Linked DNA regions of Homo sapiens. The protein of the gene in region 1 purifies or fractionates together with the protein of each later gene. This does not show direct contact. Each region holds a gene or a part of one and is shown in the gene's direction. Other genes may lie near its edges.

Region 1 (3,500 bases):
TTTAATTGGATGAAATCTCAGCTTTGTTTAGTAGAATAAATGCTGAAGAATAGCCAAAGAAGTATTAAAAAAAAAACAGTGATACTTGGGAGGGCATTTGCCTCACCACATATCAGAAGATCCTATAACACTACTTTTAGCCAATCAATATGGTGTTGCTATAGGACCAAACAAATAGATTAGTGGACCAGAACACAGAATCCAGAAAAAGATCTCAGGATATAAGGCGATTTAATATATGACCTCAGGTGCTGTTCCAGTGGAAAAAAATCTATTATTTATTTGTAATTAATTGTATGTTACTTAAATAATTCTCAAGAGAATTAGACACTGAAGGCAGATAGGACAAGAGTATGTCATTAAGAAGGTTGGGAAGTGTTGAGATTGGACAAAGACCTATTCCTCTTTTTTTTGAGAGGGTTTCACCCTTGTCGCCCAGGCTTGAGAGCATTGGCGTGATCTTGGCTCACTGCAACCTCCATCTCCTGAGTTCAAGTGATTCTTCTGCCTCAGCCTCCCAAGTAGCTGGGATTACAGGCGCCGGCCACCATGCCCAGCTAATTTTTGTATTTTTAGTAGAGATGAGGTTTTACCATGTTGGCCAGGGTGGTCTCAAACTTCTGATCTCAGGTGATCCACCCGCCTCAGCCTCCCAAAGTGCTGGGATTACAGGCGTGAGCCACTGCACCTGGCCTCCTTTTTTTTTTAATTGACAGATGAAATTGTATGTAGTTGTGTATGACATGATGTTTTGAAGTATATATATGTTGTGGAATGACTAAATCTAGCTAATTAGCATAGCATGGTCTCACATAATTAGGATTTCTGTGGTTTGAACGCTTTATATCTCTTAGCATTTTTCAGGAATATAATACATTGTTATGAACCATAATCACCATGTTGTACAAGAGATGGATCTTGCAAAGGGAGGACTCTATTATTGAATGAGTAGTGCTGGGGTAGCCAGCTATGTGGAAGAAGGTAAAATTGGACCCCTTGCCTAGATGTAAAAAATAAATTCCAGGTGAATTCAGTACTTAAACACAAAAGGTAAAAATAGAAAACTCTTGTAAGGAAATATAGGAGGACATTCTAGGAATGGAGAAGACCCAATTAAGACTGGAAACTGGCTGGGCATGGTGGCTCAAGCCTGTAATCCCAGCACTCTGGGAGGCCAAGGTGGGTGGATCACCTGAGGTCTGGAGTTCAAGACCAGCCTGGCCAACATGGCAAAACCCTGTCTCTACTAAAAATACAAAAATTAGCCGGGCATGGTGATGCACACCTGTAATCCCAGCTACTCAAGAGCCTGAGGCAGGAGAATCGCTCCAACCCAGGAGGCAGAGGTTGCAGTGAGCCAAGATCGCACCACTGCACTCTAGCCTGGGCAACAGAGTGAGACTCTGTCTAAAAAAAAAAAAAAAAAGTATATGTTCAAGGATGCTTATTGCAAGCATTGTTTATAGTGGTAAAAAACCAAAAGCCAAAAAAATACTCATTAACAGAGGCTGGGTGAATGAATCTTGCAGTAAATATTATGCAGCTACAAAAAAATAATGCATCAGTGCTATGCAAGTTAACTTTCATGAGTAGTTGATTGAAACAAGCAAAATAAGGAGAAGTGTCAGTTTTGTAAAACAAATGGACTCAATAAAAAATATCATAGAGGTATACATGTGATTGAGTTATAACTGATTGTAATGATTATGTGAGCATGGAGGAAATATACAGATGACATAATGGTTTGTTGAATGTTAAAATGGATTTCTTGGGGATGGAAGAATGGAGTGGGATGAAAAGAGGGGCCTGGGTGCAGTGACTCACGCCTGTAATCCCAGCACTTTGGGAGGCGGAGGAGGGCAGATCACTTGAGGTCAGGAGTTCGAGACCACCCTGGCCAACATGGTGAAACCCCCTCTCTACTAAAAATACAAAAATTAGCCGGGCATCGTGGCAGGTGCCTGTAATCCCGGCTACTCAGGAGGCTGAGGCAGGGGAATTGCTTGAATCTGGGAGGTGGAGGTTGCAGTGAGCCAAGATCACGCCATCGCACTCCAGCCTGGGTGACAGAGCAAGACTCCATCTCAAAGAAAAAAAAAAGAGGGCAGCTATGTAGAATGTATTAATAATAATAATAAAAAAGACTATTGATACTGTCTACTGCCCTCCCTGGTGGATATGAAACAGTCATATGTAAAGTTACGTGTGTGTATATGTATCAAGAAATAGCATAAAACAGGGAGATGTTTCCAAGAGCAGCAGTGTATGATGGTCACTCTGACAGGGCTGAACTGTTTTAAGTACAGCAGGGGGTGAGTGTAGAAGAGCTCTCAGATGGGGACTGTTCCCCAGAGTGAAGTCAGGTTCTGAAGGAGGCTGGAGGTTTCAGCAGAGGGCAAGGTCTCCTGGCAGCCTCATGGCTGGATAGGGAAGTTGGGGAAAGGCGAGTCTCAGCCTTTGGATGGCATCCAAGGCTGGAATCCAGGAAATAGAGATGAGGGTCCTAGGGAGAAAGGAGCCTGGGCAGCTGAATCTAGTCACGGTGCTTCAATCGAGGAATTGCCTGGAGGCTCAACGGTGCCCTATGGCAAAGGCTCACTATGTTCTCCTCGCCCAAGATCAGAACCAGGTCCCCGGGGATTGCCCACAGGTAGGTGGAGATGACAGGTAGGTAGAACTGGAGTAAGGGCTGAGAACAGACAGTGCCGGAATATATGTTTTTGTGCTCTGTCACAACATTGTCCAGAGAATATAACTGCAGGGGGAAGTATTTTGCAAACCGGACCTGAAGGCTCTTGAGTTTCTGTTGGTGAACAGTTTGCTGAAACAGTGACTTTTCTTTCCTCTCCCTCCCTTCCCTGTTCCCCAGCTGGATGTGTGGAATCTGGTGAAAATGTAATGAATACCACTTATGTTTTCTCCAGGAAGAATCTTAAAAGGTATGCAGTCAAGGAAATGTTTGAAATGTTTACATTTTTTTTAGACGGAGTTTCGCTCTTGTTGCCCAGGCTGGAGTGCAATGGTGCGATCTCTGCTCACTGCAACCTCTGCCTCCCGGGTTCAAGTGATTCTCCTGCCTCAGCCTCTTGAGTAGGTGGGATTACAGGTGCCCGCCACCACTCCTAGTTAATTTTTGTATTTTTAGTAGAGATGGGGTTGCACCATGTTGGCCAGGTTGGTTTCAAACTGCTGACCTCAAGTGGTCCGCTTGCCTCGGCCTCCCAAAGTGCTGGGAATACAGGCATGAGTCATTGCACCCGGCTTGTATTTTTTTTTTTTTTTTTTTTTTAGTAGAGATGGGGTTTCGTCATGTTGGCCAGGCTGGTCTTGAACTCCTGACCTCAGGTGATCCGCCTGCCTCCTCCTCCCAAAGTGCTGGGTTTATAGGTGTGAGCCACCGCGCCCTGCCAAAATGTTTACCTTTTATTTTTGCTTTTGCTTAGTCACAGTGCCTTTTCCTAACACTGCAATTAATCCATTAGGCCCATCGCTCATCTTCC
Region 2 (3,500 bases), on another chromosome or scaffold:
TGTTATACATTTTTTCTTCCACATGTTAGAAATCTTACAATATGTTGTTACTTTTATTTTAAACTGTAAAAAAGAAAAAAATTATATTGATCTACATGTCATTGATGATAGTCTTCATCCCTTTGCGTAGATGTGTATTTCCATCTCGAGTCATTTCCTCTGCCTCCTGAAGGACTTCATATTTTGTAGTGCTGATGTGCTTAATTAACTCACTATACTTTCTCTCTAAAAAAAAGTTGTCTTTTAGGAAGGAAGAGATTTTTGCTAGGTGTGGAATGCTATTTTTTTCCCCTTTTTATATTTTAAAGATTTCACTCTTGTCTTCTGGCTGGCATTTTTTCCAACAATATGTTTTCTGTCATTTTTGTTCCTCTCTGTATTTTTAATACTTTGACTATAATGTGCCTTGGTTTGGTTTTCTTTGTGTGTCTTTTGCTTAGAGTCTGGTGAGCTTCTTGATTTTGTGGGTTTATAGTTCTCATCAGATTTGGAAAATTTTGTGGCATCATTTCTTCAACTAGTTTTTCTTCCCCTCACCCGTTTGTCCCTGATACTCAATTACACACACAGTAGTTCCCCCGTATCCTCAGTTTTGCTCTCCACAGTCAACCACGGTTTGAAAATATTATATGGAAAATTCCAGAAATAAACAATTCATCTGTTTTAAGTTCCATGGCATTCTGAGTTGTCTTCATCTTGTCACGTGAGGCGCCACACAGGCATCGTGTCATCGCATGCCACCACAAGAAGGGTGAGCACAGGATGTAAGATACTTTGAGAGACCACATTCACAAAACTTTTATTACTGTATATTGTTACAATTGTTCTAGTTTATTATTGTTGTTAATATCTTCGTGTACCAACTTCCTGTACCAAATCTAATTTATAAGTTGTATTTTATTGTAGGTATGTCTGTATAGGAAAAAACGTAGTATATGTAGCGTTTGGCACTGTCCACAGTGTCAGCATCCACTGGGGTCTTGGAACATGTCCTTTGCAGATAAGGGGGGACTCCTGTATATTAGGCTCCTTGATACTGTCCCATAGCTCATTGATGCCGTTGTTGGGGTTTTTTCAGTTTTTTTTTTTTTTTTTTTTTAACCATTCCCTCTTTCATTTTGTGTATTTCTCTTGCTTTATCTTCAGATTTACCAGTCTTTTCTTCGGCAGCATCTAATCTGCTCTTAATCCCATGCAGTATATTTTTCATGTTAGTGCATTTTTCATTCATGGAAGTGCAATTTACCATCCATCTTTCACTTTCTTTCACTTCTCTCGTTGCGTTCATGTTGTTCTCCTGGTTTGGGGTCATATTTTTCTGCTGCTTTGTATGACTGGAAGTTTTTGTTTTTTGTTTTTTGACTGGCAGTTTTTGACTACACACTGGACATTGTGTTTATGGGTGCTAGAGTTTGTTGTTTCCTTTAAATATATTTGGGCTTTGTTCTAGAACATGTTTAAGACACTTGGAATTTTTAAGCATTGCTAGAGTGGGTCTGGAGAGCCTGGGACTGTGGAGACAGACCTTGCTGTGAAGGCTTGACTTATGTCACTGTATTAAGGGGTCATTCCCCTCTCCCGGTGGACTCTGGCATTTTGATAGTTGTTTTACCTTCTCCTTTCACTAGTTCCCACTAGTGAGCCAGTAGAAAAGTCCCACTGGTTTTCTCACACATGAGAGCCTCAGTGCTCAGAAAAAGTCTTCAGGAGACCCTGTGCAAATTTATCACAAGGTCAATATGGCAGGATGCCCCTTTTTAATAGTAGCTTACTTCTTTTGTCTATTTTGAAATAGTGAATTCTTGCTTTCTATCAGGTGATAATGACTTCATAATTACTGTGGGGCTCTTGTTAATTCCAGCCTTCTTTATTCATTTCTGCTGCTCTAGCAGCATCTTTTAATTGGGCTTAGATTCTTGTGTGTGCTGGTTTTGAAGATGTACTGACAGTTCCTTTGTGTTTCCTAGTGTTTATGCTTATTTCTGTTTGTTTCAGATATGTTTGCTCTTTGTTGGAATCAGAATAAAGGACCTGTGTGTTGTATACTTTATCTTTTAAGATAGTTCTGAAAATAACCTAATTTTCAGTAGAAATCTTTGTAATAACTTGGCCAGGTGCGGTGGCTCATACCTGTAACCCCAGCACTTTGGGAGGCCGAGGTGGATGGATCACGAGGTCAGGAGATTGAGACCAGCCTGGCCAACATGGTGAAACCCCGTCTCTACTAAAAATACAAAAATTAGCCCGACGTGGTGGCATGTGCCTGTAGTCCCAGCTAGTGGGGAGGCTTAGGCAGGAGAATTGGTTGAACACGGGAGGTGGAGGCGGCAGTGAGCCGAGATTGCACCACTGCACTCCAGCCTGGGCGACAGAGCAAGACCCCGTCTCAAAAAAAGAAATAAATAAATAAAAATAAAGAAATATTTGTAATAACTTGTCTTTTTCTTGTTAGTTCTGAATTGACTTGGTAAGCTACATACTAGCGTAGAGTTAAAGGTAATTGTATTAACTATTTTTCTGTAGCTTTTTTTTTAAAGTAATCATTGTTATAAAAATAATACTGTAATCTATGAATGTTTGAAAATGCAGGTAACCGTTTCTAATTAGAAAATGAAATTTAAAATGCCACATTTCTGTCATTCAGAAGTTGCCACCATTAACATCGTATTGTTAGCTGTTTCTGTGTGTTTATTGTTCTTACCATGAGATTGTATTGATTAGCTATTTTACCACTTGCTTTTTTCACTTTTCTCTGTTCTGTCTTGTCATGTATTACATATTCACCTTATTTAATATGCAGTCCATACTCAGATTTCTTCAGTTTTACCCAGAACTTTTTTTTTGTTTTTTTTTTTTTTTTGAGATGGGGTCTCGCTCTGTCTTCCAGGCTGCAGTGCAGTGGTGAGATCTCGGCTCACTGCAAGCTCTGCCTCCCTGGTTCAAGCAATTCTCCTGCCTCAGCCTCCCATGTAGCTGGGATTACGAGCACCCGCCACCACGCCCAGCTAGTTTTTGTATTTTTAGTAGAGATGGGGTTTCACCATGTGGCCAGGCTGGTCTCAAACTCCAGACCTCAGATGATCCAGCCACCTCAGCCTCCCAAAGTGCTGGGATTACAAGTGTGAGCCACCACACCCGACCCCCAGAACATTTTTTACACTCGGTTTATGTAAGCCAGGATTTGTTGTGGACCCTGTTACATCTAGTGGTTGGGTTTGCAGTGCTTTCCCTGACTGTTGGCCAGACCAGCCTCTTGTCCTGCAGAGATGCCCCTCCTTCCAGATGTGTCTGGTACTTTCTTATAGTGTTGTTTCAGCTTAGTCCCCTGTCCCCTGAGCTTCTTTTAAATGAGAAGTTCTACTGAAAGGCCCAGTTGATTCAAGTTAAACATTTTGGGCTAGAATATATATGATGTTCTATGCTTCTTGTGTCACTTCAGGGACCCCAGTCATATTTTGTTGCTTCAATACAATAGATGGCAGTCTGGTCTTTGTGTGCAT
Region 3 (4,099 bases), on another chromosome or scaffold:
TACAGGTGTGAGTCACCATGCCCGGCCCTGATGTATATATTTTAGTTAGCATTTTACTATATCTCTGTTACACTAAACGCTTTCACCAGTTTCCTTGATAGTTCTCTATGGTTTTCTTCTTTCCTTTCGGTTTGCCCCTTCTCAGTGTTCTTTTCGGCTTCCCTCATCCTATCCCGCAAATGCAGGTATCCTCTCCAGCCCACTTCATGGCTTCAACAGCTATCTATATGCACACGCACACACACCTCAAACCTTTCTTTTGAGTTCCCAACCCACATTAGCTAATATCCCAGGGGCACCTAAAACTCATTATCTCCCCCCTAAACGAGAAAGAAACTGGTATCATTATTCCCCAGTTGTCCAAGTCACAACATTCGTACCTCTTAAACCAATCTGTATCTCCCCATCCGCACTCTCCCTTCCACAGGCAGACCATCATCATCCTTGCCTGGAAAAGAGCCTCACAACTGCTCTCCTTGATTCTCCTCAATTCATTCATCCTTCACACTGCACGCAGCGATCTAAAATGCAAATGAAATTGTTCACACCTCTGCTGAGATTCTTCAAAGACTTTTCATTGCCTTAAGGATAAAAATCAATTAATTTACAAGGCTTCGCATAATCTGGTCTTCCCCTATCTATTACCACTTTCTTAAGCCACACCAGAACGTACCCGCACCATCCTCCCCACCCCCAATTCCCAACAGCCCTACACGGATCAGCTAGGCGACACTTCCTACAGGAAACCGGCGTTCAAAAGGTAAATGCTGAACAAATGAATTCCGAGACGGGATCTGGGCACCACTTTCGGCTCCGGATCCGGGTTTACGGAACGTCCGGGTTATCAGGAAGCTCAGAGGAAAGGTGAAATCCAGATCTTGACCCTTCACTCAAGTTCGCCAGACAAACCGATCCCCGTGGTATTCCGCCCTTATGAGTCATGGCTGCCAATCCCAGCCTTCCAGTGGGTCTTGAAGTCGCCACCAGCCAGCTGTGGCGCCACCAATGTTTCCCATTCAAGAATGCTATCCTCTTCGATCCCTTATTACCGCCCTAAGCAGCCGTCAAGACAAACCGGCGTTGCCAGCTTGCCCCAAAGCAAGATGGCTGCCAATCTCTATCTCTCCTCCCGAAGTGAAGCTATCCACTCCCCGATTAATGCCGCTGCCAGGCTGCCCTCACTTACTATGGCTACTCCGGCTCATGTCTCACTATGGCCTCGAAGCCGCCACTAACCGGCCGGGTTCCGGGAGGCGCCGTTCAGGATGCAGCCACCCCCGCCCGCCTGTCCCCTCCCCCACGGCCGCGGCGGCGGCGGCGGCGGCGGCTGCTGGAGCCCGGATGCGGCGCCGTGAGGCAGGCCCGGGAGAGCGGCGCGGATGGATCCAACATGGCGGCGCCGAGCCTGAGCCGAGAGTGAGGCGGAGGGGCGGCCGGAGTGGGGAGAGGGAGTCGAGCGGGACGGGGCGGGGCCGGGCGGGGCCGCAAAGGGCTTGGGGAAGGAAAGTGGAGGGGGAGGCGGTGGCGACGTCCAGCCTGAGAACCTCAAGAGAGGGAGGTGACGGGACGCTGAGAGGTGGGGGAGGGGAGCTGCCGAGGGGGGCGTGCAGGGGAGATGGCAACTGCGGGAGAGGGCAGGGGTCGAGACGGAGGAGTGAGGGCATGGGGAGGGGCGTAAACAAGGGCTGAGACTGGGCCCAGCCAGGGGTATTAGAGAGGCCGAGGTGGGGAGTGGGGCTGCGATCCGCTCGTATTGAAGGGGGTAGGAGCAGGAGGGAGAGGCTGAGGGTGTGAAGGGGAAGGGGGCTGTGGCATGTGGTTGGAGGGAGGACTGGACTCTGATGAGGGGTGTTGCGAGGAGGTGGGTAAAGGTCAGAATTGGAGTTAAGACGTTTCTGGGGGGCTTCGAAAGTGTTAAATTGGAGGTGGGAGGGGGAAGGGCCTAGGGGAGAATTTGGGTGGAAAAGGAGAGAACGGAGGCTTGGGGAATGGAGAGAGTGTCGGTGGGAGGAGGTAATGGAGAAAGTGAGAGACTGGGAGGAAGAAAGTTTGGGAGGAAGGGGAGTGGAATGGGAGATAGGACAGTGGAGCTGCACGGGTGATAGAGGTTCGGGGGTTTCCCTTTCCCCGGTGGAGAGGAGGAGAGAACAGAGTTAAGCAGCATCAGTTGCAGCCAATTCTAATTGCCAGGCCCTTAGCTTTTAAGAGGGTGGGAAGGGCAGAAGGGAATGGTCATGTGGGTTTGCAGAATTGGGGTTGGATGAGAATTCAACTGGGTTTGTTTTCCAAAAGACTCCCTAGCTTACTGTTCCCTTGTTTTTCCTGCTTGGGAAAATGGGGAAGCCGGTGTCGCCCAAGTGTGGAGGAGCAAAGGACTTTTCTAGTTTTTAGCATTAGCAATACAAGAGTGGGGGAGCAGACATGGCTATATTGGAACCCTATATGCTAAGGTGGAGGCTCTGGAAGTCTGAGGAGGGAAAGAGAAAAGATAGAGTGGCATCTAGACAGGTTAATTAAATGAGTGCTGTAGTTTCCAGACCCTTTTGCTGTTTTAAGTCTGGAAGGGAGGGGGTAACATGGATACTGTATGTAGAAAAACTTTTCCCTGGTGAAACATAGACGTATGAGTGGATGCTGCGCCATTAGATATTTTGTTCTCATTGTGTGCTAGTTAAGGGAAAGGGCCAAATGTAGAATTTGGAGGATAGTGCTGGTCTGCTGTAACCACTTTCCTCCCAGTTTTTTCTAAAGGTGAAAGTTAACGTTAATATTGTAACAAAATAGGAATAAGGAATTGTGGAGGAAGATGAGAAGCTGCCAGAGGGTAATTGGTTTTCCCAGAAGTTCTTAAATTTGGGAGCTGTCTTGCCGCAAGCCATTGAGACTGGAAATTCTTGGAGTTGGTATTGTTTTTGTAAATTGACTAATAGAGAGTTAGGGAAGCCTGGAGACTTGTTGGGGGTGAGTTCTCTAAATGGTTTTAGGCTTGTCTGTGTACTTTTGCAACGAGATTGTCTAATTCTATGGGCCTCTGAGGTTTCAAAGTAAAACTTGAAAATTAATTATTTTCCCCTCCTTATTTGTTTTTGTTTTGCTGCTGGCTGTGAAACTTGTGCTAGGAAGAGACCTGGGAAATTAAGTTTCTTGCGGAGGTAAGTCTGGAACTTTTTTATTGTTTTCAAACAATGGAAGGGAATGGAAATAGCATGGGAGTTATTTTGAGGTTGGGTCCATTAATGAGGAGGAGAATGCCAGGGAAAATGAGTTATCATTCATCCATCTGAGTGCATGAGATCTGTTGTAATCACTGTCTTTAGTTAATTGGAGATAGGAGGTGAAAGAGAAGGAGATTTAGATGTCTTGGGACAATCCCCCAGCTTTGGTTTGTTATTGTCTAGTCTTCTTGGTCAGCTCTGAAACATTTTTTTTTTTTAACATATGGAAGGCTGTATTCTAGTACATTGTCTACTAAATGTTGCCCTTGGAGGGTTGCTGGGACACCTTCCTTCCGTGGGAAACTTTTCCTCTAACTTTCTCTTTCAGCTGTTGGGGGGTTCCTGGCATCCTTCTTTTGAAAACATACTATGTAATTCTGACTTCCAGATATTTGATTACATTTCCTATCCCACCAGCAAGAATGTACTCTTAACCATCTTTAAGATTTTCTATGTAGTTTTAATTTAAGTTTCAAGATACCACTTTTTTTTGTAGTTCTTCTGCATGACTTTTCCTCTGAGGACTTCTGAGAGAGTCAGATATCTCTTAATTCTATGAAATTACAAATATCATCCCTGTTCAGAAAAGATGACTGTCATTTTCATTTCAAGACAGCACTCTTTTTTATTTCTTTCATGTCGCTTTCCCCTAAGGGCTTCTGAGAGAGCCAAGTACCTCAAAAACTACAGATATTCCTGGTTGGGATGAGACCAGACTTTGCTTGGAAGTAGAAACATAGTAGAGAAGGACCAATCAGGAGGAAATCCTGAAGATACCTATAGACTGTTGGCCCTTGGCTGACTTGGACTTCTCTAAAGAAAAAAGCAAAACTCCAGGAAATACAACAATTCCTCAGAATCAATTATTCTTGGGAAACTGTAGG
Region 4 (3,500 bases), on another chromosome or scaffold:
AATTTTTGTATTTTTAGTAGAGATGGGGTTTCACCATGTTGGCCAGGCTGGTCTCGAACTCCTGACCTCAGGTGATCCACCTGCCTTGGCCTCCCAAAGTGCTGGGATTATAGGCGTGAGTCACCATGCATGGCCCCCTGTGTTTCTGTAACTACTTAAAAAAACAAAACCTGAGGAAGTTTATTGATTAGTAAACATGTATATGGCTGGAGAGGTATGTGAAAAAGCAAATATAAAAAATGCTTATTATAGGATCTAGATGATGAACATATGGATGTCACTGTAGAATTCTTCCAGTCTTTCCATCGCTTGAAAATTTCTGTAACGAAATATTAGAGAAAAAGGTACCCAAAGCCCTGAAGTACATGTGAAAGTCACAACTAGTAACGTGATAAAAGTCTTTAAAGTCTGCGTGTTGCATTAAGGCTAGGTTGTGTTTGTTTTTTTTTTTCTTGCAGGTTAAGTTCAGTGAACTAACTGTTGACATGTTCCGGATGTTACAAGCTCTGGAAAGGGAGCCAATGAATTTAGCTTCCCAGATGAATAAACCAGGAATGCAGGTAATCTCCTCTTTTACATTTGCAAGTTTGGTAACCCTCTGGCTGCGTCTCTCCTGTTGGAACGCTGATTATTCAACAGATACTACAGCCTTGAATAAAGAATTCACTTGATGAGACATGGAGAAATAGATCATCACAGTAAGACTGAGTGTGAAAATAAGACTTCCTTGATAAGGGCTAGTGAAAATAGATATTGATAATTCATTTGTCAAATGCAGCTTTTATGTATAATGTTTTCTGTGTGTAAATATAGGAATCAGCTGACAAGCCTACTAGACGAGAAAACCCCCACAAGTATCTGCTCTACAAACCAACCTTCAGCCAGCTATATACCTTCTTAGCAGCGTCTTTTAAGGTATGTGTGATCCAGTACTTTTTACTATGAGGTGAAAGTGTGCCCTAACTAAAATCTAAGAGTCACTCTTTTGAAAAAATACTTAAGAGTTTAGGTAAAATATAAAAATGAAAAACTGCCTTTAGAGTAATGATCCTGATAATAGATATTTTTGTTTTGTTTTGTTTCTTTTTTTTTTTTTGTACTCCTGGTAAGCTGTGAAATAGCTGTTTGGGAATGAAAATTGCTTATGATGTTGTGATTATTCCCATCATTAATTAATGATAATAGTGGTTCTCCTTCCTCCAGTTTTTTATTACTCAATGATTTTAGGTGTAACAATGCAGAATTGGCCAGGCGTGGTGGCTCACTCCTGTAATCCCAGCACTTTGGGAGGCCAAGCCAGGTGGATCACCTGAGGTCGGGAGTTCAAGAACAGCTTGACCAACATGGAGAAACCCCATCTCTACTAAAAGAATACAAAATTAGCCGGGTGTGGTGGCACATGCCTGTAATCCCAGCTGCTTGGGAGGCTGAGGAAGGAGAATTACTTGAACCCGGGAGGCGGAGGCTGCGGTGAGCCGAGATCGCGCCATTGCACTCCAACCTGGGCAACAAGAGTGAAACTCTGTTTCAAAAAAAAAAACAGACTAAAAAACAAAAGCAGAGTGTCTAGGCTTCTTATATAGTCAAGGAGCTCTATGAAACATTTAGATCATCTGAAAGAACTGTGAGAAATAGGAGAATTCTTCCCAAAGTCTATGTAGAGAAAGCCACAGAAGGGACTTTGTCTTGTAGCCATGTAGTCAGGATCTTTACTTCTCCATTCAAGTTTTCGGAGAATATTCTCCAAATGATGGGGTTTTTGAAGCAGAGAATGTCTTTGCAACTTTTGACAATATAGATTAATAATGAATCTCTGCCGTGTGTATAGTTTTAAAGTCAGGACCAAGAAGAGCGTTTCTTCTCTTGGAAAAGACAACAGTGCATTCTTATTTATTTCACAACTTTAAGATGTCATGAACTTTAAATAAAACCATGTTGTTTATCCTTGTTTGTTGTTTTGTGTATGTGATTTTCTTTCATTTCAGGAGCTGCCTGCCAATAGCGTGCTTCTGATTTACCTGTCGGCCACTGGCGTTTTCCCCACAGGTCGTTCTGATAGTGAAGGTACAATAAAGGAATGCTCCCTGTTGTGAGCAGGGCTTGAATTCTCTTTATTTTCTACAAGACGATGGCCCGTAGCCCACAGACCATCTCAGCCTTTCTAGACAGACTTCCAAATTTGAAACCTGGTCTATTTGTTGATTGATAATTTTGTAGATACCCCAGTCTGTCATATTTTCTGAAATGTTATATGTCAAAGCCCATAAATCATCAGAAAATTCATATATTAAATGCTTGCTTCACTATCAAATGTATCAAAAGCATAATATGTAAATACATTTAGATATACATAAGGAGTTTGGTGTTTCAAAGTTGAAAAGGATGATGGAATAACCAAGCGTAATGATCTATTTCACATCATTGAATTTTTCTGAGCTTTCAGTGCATTGGGGAATCCGGTCAATGGCTACATGATGGCTGAAAGTCTTTGTAGAAATCAGTGTACTTTCGTAACTGTGAAAGTTCAAGCCCTTGTCATGATTTTGTTTTCTGTCCTTTATTTTGTTTTATGGATTCAATCTGTAGAATATCGGGATGCTGTTTCAGAATAAAAACGTAACACTGTCCAGAACATACCAGTCCAGAAATTGGTCAGAATAGATAAGTAACTTGGATGTAAATAAGATAATTAAATATTTGCCTGGGCAAAATAAAAAAATAAAAAAATTCTTAACATCCTTAACATTTTCCTCTTCATTTGTTTGTTGAAATTTGCATTCCTTTATAAAATGCATGTCCTTGCCATCTTCCTTGCATGACCTCCAGATTCTCTTAAAATGTTGAAATGAAAACAAATCTCTTTAGCCTTTTCATTGCAGTGATTTTTTTAAGAAGTGAAATATAATACAACATTAAAAGTAATGTAAAATCTTAAACTACTTTAGTTTTTTGTAATAATGTTAGTACTTTTATTTATAATTATCTGTATGTCTCATATACTGTTAAATCAAGTTTTCTTGGTTTCCGCTTAACATACTGACTTCTTTACTTTTTTCAAAGTATGATAGGTAATCGTACTTTGATAGGTCCTTTGAGAGAGATTATCTGAACATCCCACAGTTGCTGTTCCATTTGGACAAGAGTTTAGCTAATTCATATGAATTTAGTGGGAAAAGGCTAACTTCAGAACCAGAACTAAAGTGCTTGATACAATAGTGATAATAATGGATATTTGCACGCTGAAATCTGGCAATACATTCTTAAAGGTGAAGTTTTTGTGAATGAGAATTTTCAAATTCTATTCAAATATTTTTCTAAGTTTTACAGTTAGTGGCTCATTTAAAATTGTATTTACTTATGAGACTAAGATTTCATTCTTTAAAAAAAAAAAAGCTTATTTTATTCTGCAACTTCTTTTTTTTTTTCTGAGACAGGGTCTCACTCTGTCATGCAGACTGGAGTGCAATGGTGTGATCATAGTTCACTGCAGCCTGGGAATA
Region 5 (3,500 bases), on another chromosome or scaffold:
AGATTCCCTCTAACAATTTGAATCTATTTTCCCATACCCAACAGGCGGGTCCTTAATATAGTTTTATATTCGATGAGCTGCTAATACCCTATATACCCTATTTAAAAATCTGGGTCAATAATGTAGTAGAAAGAAATAACACTTTTTGTGATAAGAATATTTTATAGTAATTTGGTTATTTATGCTAAACATCTCCTCACTTATAAATTTTTTCTTTTTTCTTCTTTTTACATTTAATTTTTTTTTTTCTCCTGAGAATGGTCACTGAGGGAAAACAAAGAAAAACAAAGTTATTTTTCTAAATGCAGTGTGGTATCCTGAATTGGTTTCTGGAACAGAAAAAGGATGTTGGTGAAAAAACTGGTAAAATCCAAATAAAGCCTGTAGTTTAGTTAATAGTATTGCACTAGTTTTGACAAATATACCAAAGTTACTATAAGATATTGATGTTAGGGAAAGCCAGGTGAAGGGCATGTGGGAATATGTACTATCTTTGCAACTTGCCTGTAAATCTACAACTTTTCCAAAATACAAAGTTTATAATAAAAATTTTAAAATTTTGACCCTAACTTACCATTCCAATATGTACTTCCCTCATACAGTGGCAGCCACTATAATTAGTTTGATTATCCTTATGAAACCTTTTAAATATACTTTTAATGTATTCATAGAAAATATTTAATATTGTTAAATGTATATATATTTTTTCTTTTTCTAAATGTATGTATTCTAAAAATTACATTTGTAGTATCATTTTCATGGTATTGTGCCATGTGTCATTCTGTAATTTTTTCACTGTCTTTTTTTGAGATCTGGCCATGTTGATTGATTGAGATAATCGGATTCAGTGTTTCATTTCTTTTTACTATTGAATAGTATTCAATTTTATATCATTATTTATAAATTCTCCCATTTGGGAGCATTTAAATTGTTCGTAAATTTTTACTTTGACAAATAATGCTGCAGTGAACATCCTGAGCATGTTTGTATAAATTTGCAAGTTTTTTTCTAGGACAGATGCCTAAGATGTGGAATTGCTGGATCGTAAATTATGTACATTTAAAGTTTTTAAAGCAGTACCAAATACTCTCCGAATAAATTGAACTGGGACCATGCACAGTGGCTCACACCTGTAATAGCAGCACTTTGGGAGGCCGAGGTGGGCAGATCACCTGAGGTCAGGAGTTCAAGACCAGCCTGGCCAACATGGCAAAACCCCATCTCTACTAAAAATAGAAAAATTAGCCAGGTGTGGCGGCACGTGCCTGTAGTCCCAGCTACTCGGGAGGCTGAGGCATGAGAATAGGTTGAACCTGGGAGGCGAAGGCTGCAGTGAGCCGCGATCGTGTCAGTATGCTGCAGCCTAGGTGACAGAGCAAGACGCTGTGTTAAAAAATTTTTTTAAAAAAAGGAAAGAAATTGTACTGGTTTATATATATTAGAGTTCCTATTTTCCAAATGCCTCCAACTCAGTACAGAACCAACCATCTAGATTTTTGCTAATCTGATATATAGAAATAGCCTTGGCCGGGTGCGGTGGCTTACGCCTGTAATCCCAGCACTTTGGGAGGCCGAGGTGGGCGGATCACGAGGTCAGGAGATCAAGACCACCCTGGCTAACACGGTGAAACCCCGTCTCTACAAAAAATACAAAAAATTAGCCGGGCGTGGTGGCGGGCGCCTGTAGTCCCAGCTACTCGGGAGGCTGAGACAGGAGAATGGCGTGAACCCGGGAGGTGGAGCTTGCAGTGAGCCGAGATCGTGCCACTGCACTCCAGCCTGGGCAACAGAGCGAGACTCCATCTCAAAAAAAAGAAAAAAAAAAAAAAAAGAAATAGCCTCTCACTTGTTTTAGTTGGCATTTTATATAAGAGCAAAGTTGAGACACTTTTCATATGTTTAAAAATTATTTCTTTCCTTTTCTGTAAACTGTTTATGCCTTTTTCCCATTTTTCTATTGGATTGTGGGTCATTGTGTTACTAGTTTATAAGAATTTTGTATATATTAAAAATATTGGCCCTTTGGATGTTTATAATGGCTGTAATTTTTTTTAGAGTTTATAGTTTGTCTTTTGATTTGTTTCTGTATTTTTTAACATATGGGATTTTAAAATATTTTAAGGATCAAATGTAACTTTGTTACCTTTTAATGACTTCTTGAGTTTGTCATGCTCAGAAAGACCTTTTCTACACTAAAATTTATCATTTTAGAATTCTCTCATATTTCATTTTTTTGGTTTGAACCTTCAGTACATCTGGAATTTATTTTGCAGTAAGGGATGAAGTAAAATTGCAACCTAGCTTTCCCACCCCCCCCCACCCCCCCCCCCGGAGGACTACTTAGTTGTCCTAGTAACATTTATTGGGTAATCCATCTTTTTAAACATTGATTTAAAATGCTGCCTTCATCAAAGCTAAATTCGTATAAGTATTTGGGATTACTTTCAGGCTTTCTATCTCTACATCTAGCATATCTCTATATGTGCTAGTATCAAATTATTTTGGCTGGGCATGGCAGCTCATACCTGTAATCCTAGCTCTTTGGGAGGCTGAGGCAGGAAGATCGCTTGAGCCCAGGAGTTTGGGACCAACCTGGTAACATAGCGAGAGCCCGTCTCCACAAAAAATGCATGAATTAGCCCAGTGTGGTGGCACATGCCTGCAGTCCCAGCTACTTGGGAGGTTCAGGTGGGAGGATGGCTTGAGCCCAGGAGGTCAAGGCTGTAGTGAGCAATGTTTGCACCACTGCACTTCAGCCTAAGTGACAGAGAGAGAGACCCTGTCTCAAAAGAACAAACAAAACCAAAACACACACACACACACACACACAAAATTGGTTTAACATGACTTTATACTGTGTTTTAATGCCTGGTAAGATATTATCACATATTCTTTTTTTGAGATTTTTTTCCTTTTCTTTCTTTTTTTTTGACATGGAGTCTCACTCTGTCGCCCAGGCTGGAGTGCAGTGGTGTGATCTCTGCTCACTGCAACCTCCGCCTCCCAGGTTCAAGCTAGTCTTCTGCCTCAGCCTCCTGAGTAGCTGGCACTACAGGCACAGCCACCACGCCCGGCTAATTTTTGTATTTTTAGTAGAGATGGGGTTTCACTATATTGGCCTGGCTGTCTGGAGCTCCTGACCTTGTGATCCGCCCATCTCGGTCTCCCAAAGTGCTGGGATTACAGGCGTGAGCCACTGCGCCCAGCATAAGATTTTTTCCTAAATATTTTTGTGCATTTATTTTTCCATGTAGACTTTAGAATCAACTTGACTAGGAAAAAAAAATCCTGTTGGCATTTTGACTGGGATTGGACTAATATTATAATTTATGGGAAATGATATATATAGGTAACATTGAGACTACCTAAGAACTGATTGTAGTTCCACTTAGTTCATAGTATTTCACAGTAGACTTAATTTTTTTCCATATCAGTCTTGCATGTTTCGTAAGTATATTCCTACATATTTAATTTTTTTGTTTATGTCCATTTTTGTGCTG
Region 6 (3,500 bases), on another chromosome or scaffold:
TGAATGAGAGCGCTTTCATGATGAATACAGTAGATGAGAATTAGTGAATTGACCTGTGACATTTACCTACTCAAAGGTGTTTTTGCTTACTTTCTGGTTGTTGAATTTAGTTGGTTTAAGTGACGGTTGGATTACCCAACACTGTAGACATGAAAACGTCAAGAAAAAGGTCATGGTCTTTAAAACAAGCCATTTTGTTGACCTTGTGCTGCATTCTCATGGCACCTAGACTCAGATAACAAAATCCAAAGGAATTCATTAGAGTCTCTTAGTCACTTTTCATCTTTTCTTGTATGAAAAAAATGTAGTTTTGAGAATACACACACACACACACACACACACACACACACACGAGAGAAGGTTTAGAAGGTAGGTATTTTAAAATTTGTTGTGGAAGATAGTGCCAATTAAGTAATTACCCACAGCTTTTAATAGCCCTGCTCAAGATTAGGATTTTAATTAGCATATAATTAGATTTTGATGGTAGTCTACCGCAAGGTAAGCAAAAAAGTAATGGGTAAAATGTTTTTCTAGGATTAAAGCTTTAATTTTCTGTAAGTGTACTTCCCACATTATTATATATATTTGTGCGTATGAGGCAAAGTAATTTTCATTGTTTTGATACTGGAAAACTGCACTTCATATAACCTTTCAAGGAATGAATGATAAACGTATGGATTTGATACCCAATTTTTCTTGTTGCTTTGAAAATAAATATGATTTATATTATATATGGCAGTCTGAAAGTGTGAGTTTGAGGGGCTCTTTAGCAGTTTTCTATTCTCATCCATCCAGGATTACATTCAAAACATTCCATATAGATGTGTACGTATCAGATGCTGTAAATCAAGATGGTTATTATTTGGGTTAGTGTAACTGAATGATATCTGATCAGTGCTACAAAGTAAGAGTCTGGACAAGGTCAAATTCCATAATCTCAGTTTGGATTTCCTCAAAATAGAAATTTTAGTAAATATTGGAAGACATAATGGGGGCCATATTTTTCTTATGTTTAAGGTCACATTCTGTTGATTTTTGACCTAAGTTTTCATAAATAGGTTGACAAAAGCCATGATAGTTTTCACGAACAAATTTGTGTTTTCTCTTATGCAAAGTATGTGTTAAAACTGAAATGCTCTCATCTTTGGTTCTGGTGGGTAGATTTGTGTTTTTATTATTTTATTTCTTGGTTTCTTATAGGGAAGGAGGCTTATTCTATATATGTATTTATATTTGCCAGTACAGGCTTGTCTTTACAAAGGATAGGGTGCATGAGATAACCCCCTTCCCCAGATAATCTCTATATTAAGTTATTGATTGATGTTAGTTTTCGCTAAATTACAATTTAAAAATATCAAACATTAATAGTTAAGTAGCCTTGACAAATTGCTTCTACAAGATGTTTATGCAATATAAATAGTTTAAAGTAGTTTTCTTCCCAGTTAGAGAAAATTAACATAAGCCAAAAGTTTAAAACTGTACTATTATATTAAGTATATGTGATCACATTGCATTACATAAAAAATTAAATATTCTTATAATACTATGAAAACAATTTTAAAAATATCGTTTTAGGAACAGAAACCACAGTTTTTTTTTCTGAAAGTGTGGCGTATTTCCATGACATAAAGGAGTGTTTCTTAGAATTAATATTTACTTTCTTTGAATTATTTGGTTTGTGGTTGATATTAGCCTTTTCTAGATTTTAAAATCTCTTATTTAATGTTTACACATTTTCTTACACTATAAATTAAAGAATGGATGAGAAAGCTCAGTGTCTTGCCTTTTGGGTTTTATTCCAATTAATATTTCTTTGGCATTCACAATTTTTCAGATTTTTTTTATTGGACCTCAGGTGTACAGAACTGGATTAATCATAAGCCTTGTTTTGTGACATGCTCTCATCATTGGTCCATACATGTCCCACATTGATTTATATATTTAGTTATGTAATTACTTTCCGCCTTCTTCTAATGAGAGCATTGACCAGTTTAAGAACCTTGCTTTGCAATTTGGTGACATTTATTTTCTTTGAAATTCTAGAAAAACGTTTCTTCATTTCAACTCAAACTTGCTGCTAAAGCGCCTAAATCTGAAAAGGAAATGGACCCAGAATATGAAGAGAAAATGGTAAATGTAGTCTTGGATAGGATAGTGAATGCTGTAATTAATTTTTATAGTTGAGATGTTAAAGATGAAAAAATACATGTATATATATAATGCATAGAGAATCATTGATTTTAGAATTGGAAAATAATTTAATATACAATCTATCACAATATTTTCTGTTGAATAAATTAACCTCCTCATTTTCAGATGAGGAAATAAAGGATCAGGGAAGCTATATGTCATAGTTAGGACTAGAAGTCACATCTCATTTTGGTTCGGTGCTCTCTGTCCCATAATAAAGTGCTTTAAGCTAGAAATATTTATTTATGAGGTGAAAATATCAGTGGTAATACCACTGTGGCTTTGTGACCTGAGAGAAATCCAGTCACAAAGCCAGATTGACGTATTTTTGTTTCTTTCTCCTTCTTTGGACATATGAATAAATGCTACACATTAATGAAATGTGTAATATGTCAATACACTTTAAAGGGAAGAATATTTGTCCAATGCATGAAGATATCACATATTTAAGCAGCATAATCTTAGTTATACTTACATATTGCTTGCTATAATACATTTAATTATTTAATTTTTAGTTACTAAAATACATATTTTAGCTTTAATTTTAACTAAACTCTTATAACCTTGGATCTTTCAAGAATTTAACAGGTGGTTGAAATGGATTTTTTTTTCCTCTGAGGGGTTGTTTTTGCAGTAATATTATAAAAATAAGTATAGATGAAATATATTTTTTGGTTGTTGATAGCTATTTTATAAGACTTAATGTTTAAGGCCACATCTAATGTAGGTAGGCAATGTTTTAACAACTCTAAAAATAACATTCCAGTGAGGATAATATAAAATGGAAAGTTTTTGGCCTCCTTCCAGCTTGTAGTCTGAATTTATCTAACTCTTATGTTTATGTTAATGAACTCTTCTGTAAGTTTTCTGGGTTATTAATTATGCATCCTTCATTAGCAATCAAGTATTCTCTACTCTGTGGTTGGAAAGTGACTTTGAATAAATAAATAGTCTTTATTTTTTCCTTTATCTAGAATGATGTATATATCTTTTGATCTTTTAAGATTTTTTTAGTGAAACAAAGTTTTATTGCCTGTATATGGTACACGTTCCCTGACCTTTTACAATTTATTGAGAAATTAGAATACATATCAACTTTTAATAGTTAATAAACTATTTCACATATATGTGCATATGTTTATATATTTTTCCCAAATTCTGCTTACTTTGGGGAGAAAGTTTATACGCTACTAGCACAAAATACAGTTTTCTAGATCCCTGTGAGTGAAGAGAGGAGTGTTTATTACATTACTATACCATGACACTGAAAATATTTTGAGACAAGATGATACTGTATTTTAAGATTTAAG
Region 7 (3,500 bases), on another chromosome or scaffold:
GGGTTATTAGTGAGCAGGATCAGTAAGTCTAGATGTGAAGACTAGAGGGATGTGGGATCTTGAGACCAAACCTATACTTATGAGTAGTATTTTTTTAAAAACCAAAGTAACTATTGAACATAGAAAACTCCACAGCCACCAAAGCAAGAGAGTTAGCCCCCTTCTTTTCCAGGTATCTTCTAGCTGTTCCATTAGGGCTTCATTTTCCATTCAGGGGAGGTTTTTGAGTGTCTTGAGAAGCTGGAGAAAAGGGAGAGAACTTTCCAAGAAAAAGAAAGAGAAATAAGAATGAGAATGGATTCATGGCAGTTTAAAGTATACTTCTGATATTTTTAGAGATGCCTTCAATGCTTCAAACATTTCAGTTTCATTGTGGCTTTTTAAAAAATAATAAAGAATGATTAGTGGATTTTTAAAAGAATTTCTGCTTGGCCTAATTTGTCAATAGGAAGAAAAGAGAATACACCAATTAAATGTTCATATCCTTAACAGCAAAAGGCTTATCACTCCAGCTCTGTATTTAGAGTCATCTTTGGTTGGGGAGATTGGATCTATTTATAGCTGCTACCACGGTCTTGTGGAGGGGAACTGCTCTCCCTTTTTCTCTGATATTTTCCGAGTTTTGCAGCACAATATAGATAAAGCTGGAATATTTCATAAGACTTTACTAAAGGCAAGGGAACAAGCAAAAGGAAGTAAGCAGAGAGAACAGCATGCAATGAAACCATGTTTGATATGAAATCTAGTTTTAGTTTTCAGCTTTGCTTTCTCCTTAGCACCTGGCTTGCCTCAAGTTTGTAAGCCATCTTTTCCCTGACACTCAGGAAACCCTTCAAGCATGTATAATTTCTAAATTTCAGACTCAAGAGAGAGGGCTTCATGATTGACACCAGGAATGCAGCCTACATGGGTGTGGCCTGTGTTTTCTACATGTAGTCATATCCAACTATATCCCAATAGCTTCCGCAAGACAGTCATATCTGCTATATCCAATTATCTAATATCCTTCACTAGAGGTAAACATGTGGCCATAGGTTTTTTTGTGTAATTGATCTTTATATATTATGTACATTTTATGGCTTTTTAAATTAGGGCTACAGTATTATATAATTAAAAACATGGACTAGAGCTAGTAGACCTGGGTTCTAGTCTATTTGCCAGTCTTGTATGTTGTAGCAATTCAATCTGTCTATGGTTTTGTAGAAAGATTTGGATATGATTAGTCTGTAATTTTATAATTTAGACTATAATTGAATTATTTTAAATAATCATAAAATTTGTACTTGAATCTTTCTCTTTGCCTATTTTAATATGATGCTGAGATATTAGTGAGGCATAATGACCCAATTATTATTCCTGTGAGAAAATATGATCCATTTTATAATGATATACTTTATAGGATAAGTTTTCCATGATGGTGACAGATGGGACCTACTTAAATTTAAAAGGGGCCATAGGGGTTTGCTATGAGTTTTTTATAAAGTAAATATTTACCTCTAAATGTACATCAGACATAATTTAGATGCTCTTATACAGAATGTAATTGCATGTAGTTAAATCTATATATAGATTCTATATTTTCTAGTTTTATTTCTTTCATGTATTTGACATTTCTTCTTTAGAATTTTTAATTGAATTGAAAAAGCAAACCAAAGCATCATATATTAAAGTACTTTAAGTTATTTGGTACTCTTAGTTAAGATACACCAATTTTTTTCTTTCTACTTAAGTATAATCTGTTTTTCTCCCCAGAGCGAAAAGCTGTTGCTATATGATACAGTCCAGAGTGAACTAGAGGAGAAGATAAGAAGGCTTGAAGAGGATAGGCACAGCATTGATATTACCTCAGGTAAGGAGAATGATATGATTGTGATGTTTGAGTGGCACCAGACCTTTGGTTTACTGTAGTGTCATATCGTATCTCAGTCTTCTAATATTAATATTATGTAAATGAAATGTCCCAGCAAAGGAGAAAAGGGGAAGAACTCTAAAGTGATGGTGATTATATTGTTATTGTTATTTGAATTCACACTTTAGAAAGATGTAAAAAATGGAGCACACGACAAGGGACGAAACAGAAGTATGACAGGAACCTACTGGCAGAATAGTGTCAGGGCTGGATGTGGTGCTGCACATCTATATCTACAGTCCCAGCTATGCAGGAGACTGAGGCGGAAGCATCCTTTGATCCCAGGAGTTCGAGATTGCAATTGCAGTGAGCCATGATGGCGCCACTGCACTCCAGACTGGGCAATCTTGTCTCCAAAAAAAAAAAGAATAGTATTGGAAATTAGCTATAGTATATGTTTTTCCTTGTAAGTCTTGAAAGACTGTTATGTGGAAGAAGGAATGAAAACCTTTTTGACATCATACAAGGTAGGACAAACTGATAGAAGTTATAGGGAGGTAGATTTTTGTTTCAGAAAAAGGAATAACTTATTAATGATTAGATCAGTCCAGTGTGAAATTGGCTTTTTCAGGGTGTTACAGAAAGGTTTTTTGCATTGAGTGGAAGGTCTACTAGGTTATCCTACAGTTCTTGAGTATATATTACTTTATCTGTTATAAAGTTTAGTTCTCTATAGGGTAGGCATGGTGGAGTCAGATAAGCTGAGCTCTAGTGCCAGTGCTCCCTCACCTACTAGTCTGGTGACCATGGACAGTTACTTCACTTTTCTAAATCAATCTCCTTGTCTGTAAAAGGAAAGTAATAAGAATACCTACCTCAGTGGTAGCTTTGGGGATTAGGTGAGACAATGCATGTAATATACATTTTACAAAGTGCATGACAATATGGTAATCAGTTCTTAGTCATGAAGTGCCAAATTGATTTTTGCTTTAATAAAGGCAGAGCAAAACTTAAACACGTAGTGCTCATGAAATTATGTACAGCTTAATCTATATATACCCAGCTGCCAATGAAGTTTTTTACGTTTTTACATGTAACTAAATAGCCACCATAAAATTAGAGTCTTTTTTCCTCCTTTGTTCACCAGAAACCCACTAATACTTAATCTTTATTTACCTGCCAGAGCTGTGGAATGATGAGCTTCAGTCAAGAAAAAAGAGGAAGGATCCTTTCAGTCCTGACAAAAAGAAGCCAGTTGTTGTTTCAGATATCCTTTTCCAAATTTTCTGTTTTTTTTTCCTTGATGTGCGTTTTTCCATTGTGCATGCCTTTATAACTTTTATTTGTAAACACTGACTTTATTTGCATGATCCTGTAATAAGCAAAAGATGATTTATTTATAAAACCGATTGAAGACAGAGGATATAGTGTATACTTTAGGTCAGGAGAGGTGGCAGAGGAGAAGAAATTCAATCATGATCTCAACTTTGAAAATTAATGTGACTTGTCGTTCACCAAGGGCTTTGATGTGAAACAGTCGTTTAGTATACAGTATGATTGTTTAATTCTCATGTGTACTTTTTTTTTCTTTTTGAGACAGGGTCTCACTGTGCCACCTAGGCTGGAGTGCAGTGGCACAATCATGGCTCAC

The links.
Region 2: the proteins of CHAF1B (region 1) and ADNP2 purify together in Homo sapiens (affinity purification with mass spectrometry, with the first as the bait; one large-scale study listed by BioGRID). This does not show direct contact.
Region 3: the proteins of CHAF1B (region 1) and DEDD purify together in Homo sapiens (affinity purification with mass spectrometry; one large-scale study listed by BioGRID and IntAct). This does not show direct contact.
Region 4: the proteins of CHAF1B (region 1) and SCAI purify together in Homo sapiens (affinity purification with mass spectrometry, with the first as the bait; one large-scale study listed by BioGRID). This does not show direct contact.
Region 5: the proteins of CHAF1B (region 1) and LIN9 purify together in Homo sapiens (affinity purification with mass spectrometry, with the first as the bait; one large-scale study listed by BioGRID). This does not show direct contact.
Region 6: the proteins of CHAF1B (region 1) and SMARCA1 purify together in Homo sapiens (affinity purification with mass spectrometry, with the first as the bait; one large-scale study listed by BioGRID). This does not show direct contact.
Region 7: the proteins of CHAF1B (region 1) and BRMS1L purify together in Homo sapiens (affinity purification with mass spectrometry, with the first as the bait; one large-scale study listed by BioGRID). This does not show direct contact.

Annotation. Positions count from the first base shown.
Region 1 is NC_000021.9:36,405,892-36,409,391, forward strand, and holds part of CHAF1B (chromatin assembly factor 1 subunit B), read left to right. Parts: intron 1-2,869; coding exon 2,870-2,939; intron 2,940-3,482; coding exon 3,483-3,500. UniProt on the Homo sapiens protein: Acts as a component of the histone chaperone complex chromatin assembly factor 1 (CAF-1), which assembles histone octamers onto DNA during replication and repair.
Region 2 is NC_000018.10:80,126,262-80,129,761, forward strand, and holds part of ADNP2 (activity-dependent neuroprotector homeobox protein 2), read left to right. Parts: intron 1-3,500. UniProt on the Homo sapiens protein: May be involved in transcriptional regulation. May play a role in neuronal function; perhaps involved in protection of brain tissues from oxidative stress. May be involved in erythroid differentiation.
Region 3 is NC_000001.11:161,129,868-161,133,966, reverse strand, and holds the start of DEDD (death effector domain-containing protein), read left to right. Parts: upstream 1-1,299; 5' UTR 1,300-1,416; intron 1,417-1,520; exon of another isoform or gene 1,521-1,576; intron 1,577-3,119; 5' UTR 3,120-3,152; intron 3,153-4,099. UniProt on the Homo sapiens protein: A scaffold protein that directs CASP3 to certain substrates and facilitates their ordered degradation during apoptosis. May also play a role in mediating CASP3 cleavage of KRT18. Regulates degradation of intermediate filaments during apoptosis.
Region 4 is NC_000009.12:125,000,529-125,004,028, reverse strand, and holds part of SCAI (protein SCAI), read left to right. Parts: intron 1-458; coding exon 459-560; intron 561-813; coding exon 814-915; intron 916-1,985; coding exon 1,986-2,064; intron 2,065-3,500. UniProt on the Homo sapiens protein: Tumor suppressor which functions to suppress MRTFA-induced SRF transcriptional activity. May function in the RHOA-DIAPH1 signal transduction pathway and regulate cell migration through transcriptional regulation of ITGB1.
Region 5 is NC_000001.11:226,288,665-226,292,164, reverse strand, and holds part of LIN9 (protein lin-9 homolog), read left to right. Parts: intron 1-3,500. UniProt on the Homo sapiens protein: Acts as a tumor suppressor. Inhibits DNA synthesis. Its ability to inhibit oncogenic transformation is mediated through its association with RB1. Plays a role in the expression of genes required for the G1/S transition.
Region 6 is NC_000023.11:129,516,991-129,520,490, reverse strand, and holds part of SMARCA1 (SWI/SNF-related matrix-associated actin-dependent regulator of chromatin subfamily A member 1), read left to right. Parts: intron 1-1,843; exon of another isoform or gene 1,844-1,915; intron 1,916-2,043; coding exon 2,044-2,130; intron 2,131-3,500.
Region 7 is NC_000014.9:35,860,838-35,864,337, forward strand, and holds part of BRMS1L (breast cancer metastasis-suppressor 1-like protein), read left to right. Parts: intron 1-1,752; coding exon 1,753-1,849; intron 1,850-3,032; coding exon 3,033-3,116; intron 3,117-3,500. UniProt on the Homo sapiens protein: Involved in the histone deacetylase (HDAC1)-dependent transcriptional repression activity. When overexpressed in lung cancer cell line that lacks p53/TP53 expression, inhibits cell growth.